Linked DNA regions of Homo sapiens: region 2 is linked to region 1. The links come from fine-mapping of genetic effects on plasma protein levels. Region 1 holds a variant in brackets. A gene starts in the other region. All regions are shown on their reverse strands.

The links. PIP is the posterior inclusion probability: the model's chance that the variant is causal. The UK Biobank Pharma Proteomics Project read protein levels with antibody pairs (Olink). The fine-mapping took linkage between variants from a reference panel, not from the people measured, so its PIPs are less certain.
Region 2: it holds the start of MSLN, and the variant in region 1 is fine-mapped to the plasma level of the MSLN protein (UK Biobank, PIP 0.96).

Annotation. Positions count from the first base shown.
Region 1 is chr2:25,498,292-25,501,196 of GRCh38, reverse strand. All of the region lies in intron 9 of DTNB (dystrobrevin beta), which reads left to right. Among named protein-coding and RNA genes, the nearest start is that of DTNB-AS1, 79 kb to the right of the region's middle. RefSeq lists a cis regulatory region at 2,005-2,015 and an enhancer at 1,943-2,087. The variant C/G (reference allele first, on the strand shown) is at 1,028.
Region 2 is chr16:759,152-762,056 of GRCh38, reverse strand. It overlaps MSLN (mesothelin), which reads right to left and starts at 1,323. Exons shown (of 18, transcript NM_005823.6): 1 at 1,236-1,323; 2 at 883-984. RefSeq lists enhancers at 1,367-1,385, 1,551-2,076 and promoters at 1,367-1,385, 907-1,387, 893-2,742.

The DNA of each region.
Region 1 (2,905 bases):
AGCTTTTACATTTAACTTATTTTTTATGTTCATCAATCTTTAGCTGTATTCAGTTTTGTTTTGTTTTTTGTCTCAATAACTATGGTTTTCATTTTTAAAGCCTCTAATTGGTTATTTTTCAGAACATTTGATGGATGCTGTTTTATCCTTTAGGGGCCTGAGGATCTTAGGTATTTGAAGACCTTTTTGGATGCTCTGTTTTCTCTGCTTTTCGGGGGGCCCCATGGGGGTCAGAACCTAGGTTCTTCCAGCCTCCTCAAAAGTGGCCAGCAGTCCTTGTGTGTGTGGCTCATGGCCGCTGAGAAGCAGCCCTTGCTCACCACTATGATTCTTCATTTTCTTCCTTAGAGGATACTTTTTCATTTTGTTTAGGCATTAAACAGAGTTTCCTTTTTTGTTTTGGTCCTAGCTATACATGCATTAATTATGCATTAATTTATGTTTATATCTTTAAGTCATTTTTTTTTTGGCACAGGAGGGTGAGCTCTCCGCATGTGCTCACTCTACTACCTTGTACTGGAAGTCCCTGGACTACTTCTGCAGCTGATTTATAGTTCACTGGCAAAGCACTGTCTCCCAAGGTCTCTGTGTGGTCTTTTCAGCAGAGACTTAGATACACATTTTAATGAAATGGTAGGTGGTTTTTCTTTCCCTTGGCAAATTCTCTAATGTCTTGGGGCATTTTACATTTCTTTTAGGTTCTTTTGGTCCAGAAATGAGATGCTAAGAATGATTGAACAGCGTAGTTGGCCTGATGTGTTTAGTACGCATGAGGAGCGCTGCTGCCTCTGTTGGGTGTGTGCCTGTTTAGGCCTCATTACTCCTCCCACTCACAGATTTTTGCTATCCCAAATGGCTTATCTACCAGCCTTCTTTGAATTCCTTGTCTGGATATCTTTTCCATTTAAAATTCATGTCAGTTGAGCACCCGACCAATTGACACTTTTGGGTTTCAGCCAATACATTGCTTAAGGTAGATTAGAATGGTAAGTAGATGGCCTGGCACAGTGGCTCACTCCTGTAGTAC[C/G]AGCACTTTGGGAGGCTGAGGCAGGAGGATTGCTGAGGCCAGAAGTTCAAGACCAGCCCTGGCCACAGAGTGAGATCCCATGTCTACAGAAATATAAAAATAAAAAAAATTAACTGGATATGGTGGTGCACCTGTAATCCAAGTTACTTGGGAGGCTGAGGCAAGAGGATCCCTTCAGCTCAGGAGTTTGAGGTTGTAGTGAGCTATAATCATGCCAGCGTACTCCAGCCTGAGTGAAAGAGCAAGACCCTGTCTCAAAACAAAACCAAAAAAAAGAATGGTAAGTAGAATTATAAAAGCTCAGCTATAAGAGAGTCATTCATAATTGAACTAATATTTGTTGAGCAACCAGTGTGTTCCAATTGTGGTTTTCAGTACACATTGTGAATGCAATGAAGACAGAGATGAAACAAGTACTAGGGTCCCTGCTCTCGCAAAGTTTACAAGCTCATAAGTGAAACCAACCAACAAATAAAAACTAATTACATATAATAGCAAATTATGATAAGTATTATTTAAAAAGAAGAGGATACTATGAGAGAATATAGCAGGGACTTCTAATTTAAATTTTGTAGTCAGGAAAGGGGTTTTCAAACTTTTTAAAAAAGCAGTAGAACATTTTATTCCTATGAAATGTTATGTGGAATAGAAGTGGAGCTACCCTTATTGGAACAAGATTGGGGCCTAACATCCTTCGTCTGTTCCCCTTGCTGTTCATCATGGTCACTGAAGCACCATGTGGCATCCTCAGATCCCCAGAGCACAGCATGTGAAAATCAGTGCTCTAGAACCAGCCCCTGTCATTTCACAGACCAGTTAGCTGAGACACACAGGGCTTCATTGTCCAAAGTCATGCAGGTCACATAATCCACTTAGTATCAGAGTTGGAGCCAGAACCAATTTTCCCAAACTTTTTCCCACTCTCCACTGCCCCCCTTTCCTTCCTGATATGGTTGTTTTTGTTTTTGTTTGTTTGGTTTTTTTTTTTGCAATGACACGATCTCGACTGAGTGCGTCCTCCGCCTCCCCGGTTCAAGCGATTCTCCTGCCTCAGCCTCCCGAGTAGCTGGGATTACAGGCACCCTGCCACCATGCCTGGCTAATTTTCCTATTTTTAGTAGAGACAGTGTTTCACCATGTTGGCTAGGCTGGTCTCAAACTCCTGACCTCAGGTGATCCACCCGCCTTGGCCTCCTAAAGTACTGGGATTACAGGAGTGAGCCACCATGCCTGACCTTGATATGTTTTCATTATAAAATTATGGTATTTCAATCTCATAATCTCAAACATTCTATAGATCTTTTTTTTTTTTTTTTTTTTTTGAGACAGGGTTTCATTCTGTTGCACAGACTGGAGTGTGATGGCATGATCATGGCTCCCTGCAGCCTCAACCTCCCAGGCTCAAGCAATCCTCCCACCTCAGCCTCCTGAATAGCTGGAACCACAAGAATGCACCACCACACCTGGCTAATTTTTGTATTTCTTTTGTAGAGATGAGGTTTCACCATGTTGCCCAGGCTGGTCTCAAACTCTTGGGCTCAAGCAGTCCACCCGCCTCAGCCTCCCAGAGTGCTCCCAGTGAGCCACTGCACTCGGTCTGTAGTTTTTTCCTGTAATTAATTTTACCCATTATTGTTCACATTGCCCTTCACATTCTGCACTGTGTCCCTCATCTATATCCTTAGAGTTTGTAGCCTTGAAAGATGATATCCCACTGTTATTTTGTTTTTATTATATTTCTGATATGAATCAGCTCTTTCATCTTCTGCTCAGTAGTCTAACACATGCACCCATTTTATTTTAGGCTCTTAGTTTGGATATCTGAGTGTGTGTAGTAACAGTCACACTAGTTGGTTTGTCTGATTTGTTGGCTTGGCT
Region 2 (2,905 bases), not on the chromosome of region 1:
AGCCCCTTGTACTCTCTAGGGTGGGGCCTGTGGGCCACTGTGGGGTGGGGAAGTGGGTGGGGAGACCCTCCCTGAACAAGAATTGTCCTCCTGGGGTAGGGGTGGGGCTCGCAGAAGAGGGAACTGGCTTCTACACTCACCCCTTTCAGGGAGGCCACCATGGCGGAGTAGAATAGAGCTGCCTCCTGAAAACCTTGGCCCAGGCCCGGTGGGTCCACCCACAGCTCAGAAATGGGGGTCACACGCTCATGCTCAGCAGCCCCATCCACAGGCAGAGCCTGCCTGGTCGGCCCGGCCACTGGGGAATGTCGCGGGGAGGCACACAGCCTCCGGGTGACAGACTCTACTCCCCCAGGCCCCAGAGGAAGTGGGGAGGCCCCTGAGGCTCTGAACACCTTGAGAAGGTGGAAGAAAACAGACCCCCCCCACAGCCAGAAAATGGGCAGTGAGTGGGACCCCCAGCCCTTGGGGTGCGTGAAGCCAGGAGGGAAACGTGGCCATCGGATCACAGGGGACCTGGGCACTCCCCACCCCAGCTCCATGTGACCCAAGGACCTCAGCACCTGGGATGGGGGCTCCCCGAGAGCCCGGCCCTTCCTGCTCTGAGGGGCCTCTGCAGGCCATGGGGGGCCCTGGAATCTGCATCCTTTACACCTGCAGGAGAGCTGGGCTGGGGCCGTGGAGGCACCTGCACTGCCTTAGGACTGCCGCTTCCAAACAAATGGGTCTGCGTGTGCCCTGCGGGGTGAAATCTGCGTCCAGCTGAAGCCTGACCATCGCTCTGGTGCTGGAAGCCCGGCCTGGGGCGGCCCCAGTTCTCCAGATGGAAGGTGCAGATTCCATCCACACCACAACAGGAAGAGCTCAAAGGTTGTTACTTACAGATCCCAGGGAGGGAGGCACCGTGGGTCCACCGGTAGCTCTCTGTCCGCGCGTCACAGCAGACGGGAGTGGCCGGCCAGGCAGAAAGAGGAGTGCGTGGCGCTGGCAGCGCCCATGAGGAACAGGACAGCCCCTTTCAGATCGCGGGCCAATGCCCACACGTGGGCCTCTAAAGGGCGATGTGAAAGGGGAAGCCCAGCCCCCAGGCCTCTGAGGCCTTCTGCGCAGTTGGGTAGGGAGCTTTACCCCTAACGCCCGGGCAGCCCCCAGCCCTCCAGGTCCCGAGTGGCCCCTCCCAGGTCTCAGTGGGCCCTGCCCAGGGTAACTCTGATGTGCAGGGTGATTGGCCACACCTGAGCCTCCTCTGCCTCGGTTTCCTCAATTGGGAAGTGGGGGTGGAGAGCCTGGCAGCCTCCCGGGCCGTCAAAGGGAACAAATGACGGCTTTGCCCGGGGCAGCAGGGAGTGGTGGCGCCTCACGCCCCAGGAATGTGTGGGTGGAGACCCCGCACAGGAGCCTTGGACAGGCAGCGGGCCAGGCCTGGGGGAGGAGGGATGCCCAGGAAGGCAAAGCTGCCCTCGGTGGGCGAGGGTGGGAGCCCGGGCCCAGGTTTCACGGCTGCCCTGGGTGGGTGTGGGGCATGTGTAGGAGCCCGGGCCCAGGTTTCATGGCTTCCCTGGGTGGGTGTGGGGCGTGGGTGGGAGCCTGGGCCCAGGTTTCACGGGATCCCACTCTGATTCTCAGGTGCTGAAACCCAGGGAGCACTGGCCCCCCCAGTCGCAGGTCAGCAGGCTCTGGATGGTGGCCACGCAGCCCAGACAGGACTCCCGGGAGCACAAGCCTGACCCCCAGTGCAGTGTGGGCCTCGCAAGGCTGTGAGCCGTCCGTCTCAGGGCTGTGGGAGCACACAGGTCAGGGAGGCAGGACGGGGCCCAGCTCCAGGCACACGCACACCCCTTTCTCGCAGGGTCGACTGGAACAGAGCTGCCCCCGGGCGCTCTCTGGCCTGGCGAAGTGGGAGCTGTCTTCCCTACGCATCTGGGCTGGCTGCCTGCTGCTGATGGAAGAGCTGCTCCTCCTGACCTGGGGCCACAGAAGCCCCCTCCCTGCCCCTGAAACCCCTCCCAGCATGTCGTGAGCTCTTATCCCCAGTACGGAATCTGCCTCCGCTATGAACACCTGCAAAGGTTTGTGTGCTGAACGGAGGTGTGCGCGGCGGTCATCTCTGGTCTCTCCACAGAGTGGGTTTTCTATCGTGACTCGCGGTGGAATCGGACCTTCACGCACACAGAATTCAGCAAGGCTGCCAGGTGTAAGCGTCAACTTACAAATGTCAAGAAGGGATTAAGGGCCTTTTAAAAACTCCCTTCCGCAGAGAACAACTGAAAAATTCCAGACACTCTTGTAGCAAACCAGTTACCCAAGGGCTCTGGGGAGGGGACAGAAGGCAGCCGGCTTGGGCGGGAACTCACAGGTAAAGGGAGAGGCCAGCTCCGAGTGGCGTTCCCTTTGTGTCCACACAGCTTTGCTCTGAAGGAGCCGCAGGTTGGCTGCGGGGCTGTGAAGTGGCCCAGGCTGCCACGGACACCCACAACTTTCCCGGCCAAAGGCCAAAGGAAACCAAGGAAGGAGCCCAGAATACTCAGGGCCCAGAGCTCGAGGAGAGGCCTGAGCCGGAGGAGCCAAGGAGGCGCCCACGTGCCCAGCTGAGCCCTGAACTGAAGGAGCCGAGGAGGGTCCAGGAAGAGCTCGGAGGGCCCCGTAGACACGGCTGAGCCCTGAACAGGAGCCTCAGAGGGGCCCATGTGCCCGGCTAAGCTCTGAACCAGCCGACTGCAAGCTGCGGACAATGATGAAAACGCGCTGTGGCCAGCCTGGGCTCACCCTTCAGCCAGCACCGTGGGAGGCCGATGCGGGAGGGTCCGTTGAGGCCAGAAGTTCAAGACCAGCCTGGGCAACGTAGTGACACCTCATCTCTATAAAGAATCTTTAAATGAGGCCCTGTGTGGTGGCGCACGCCTGT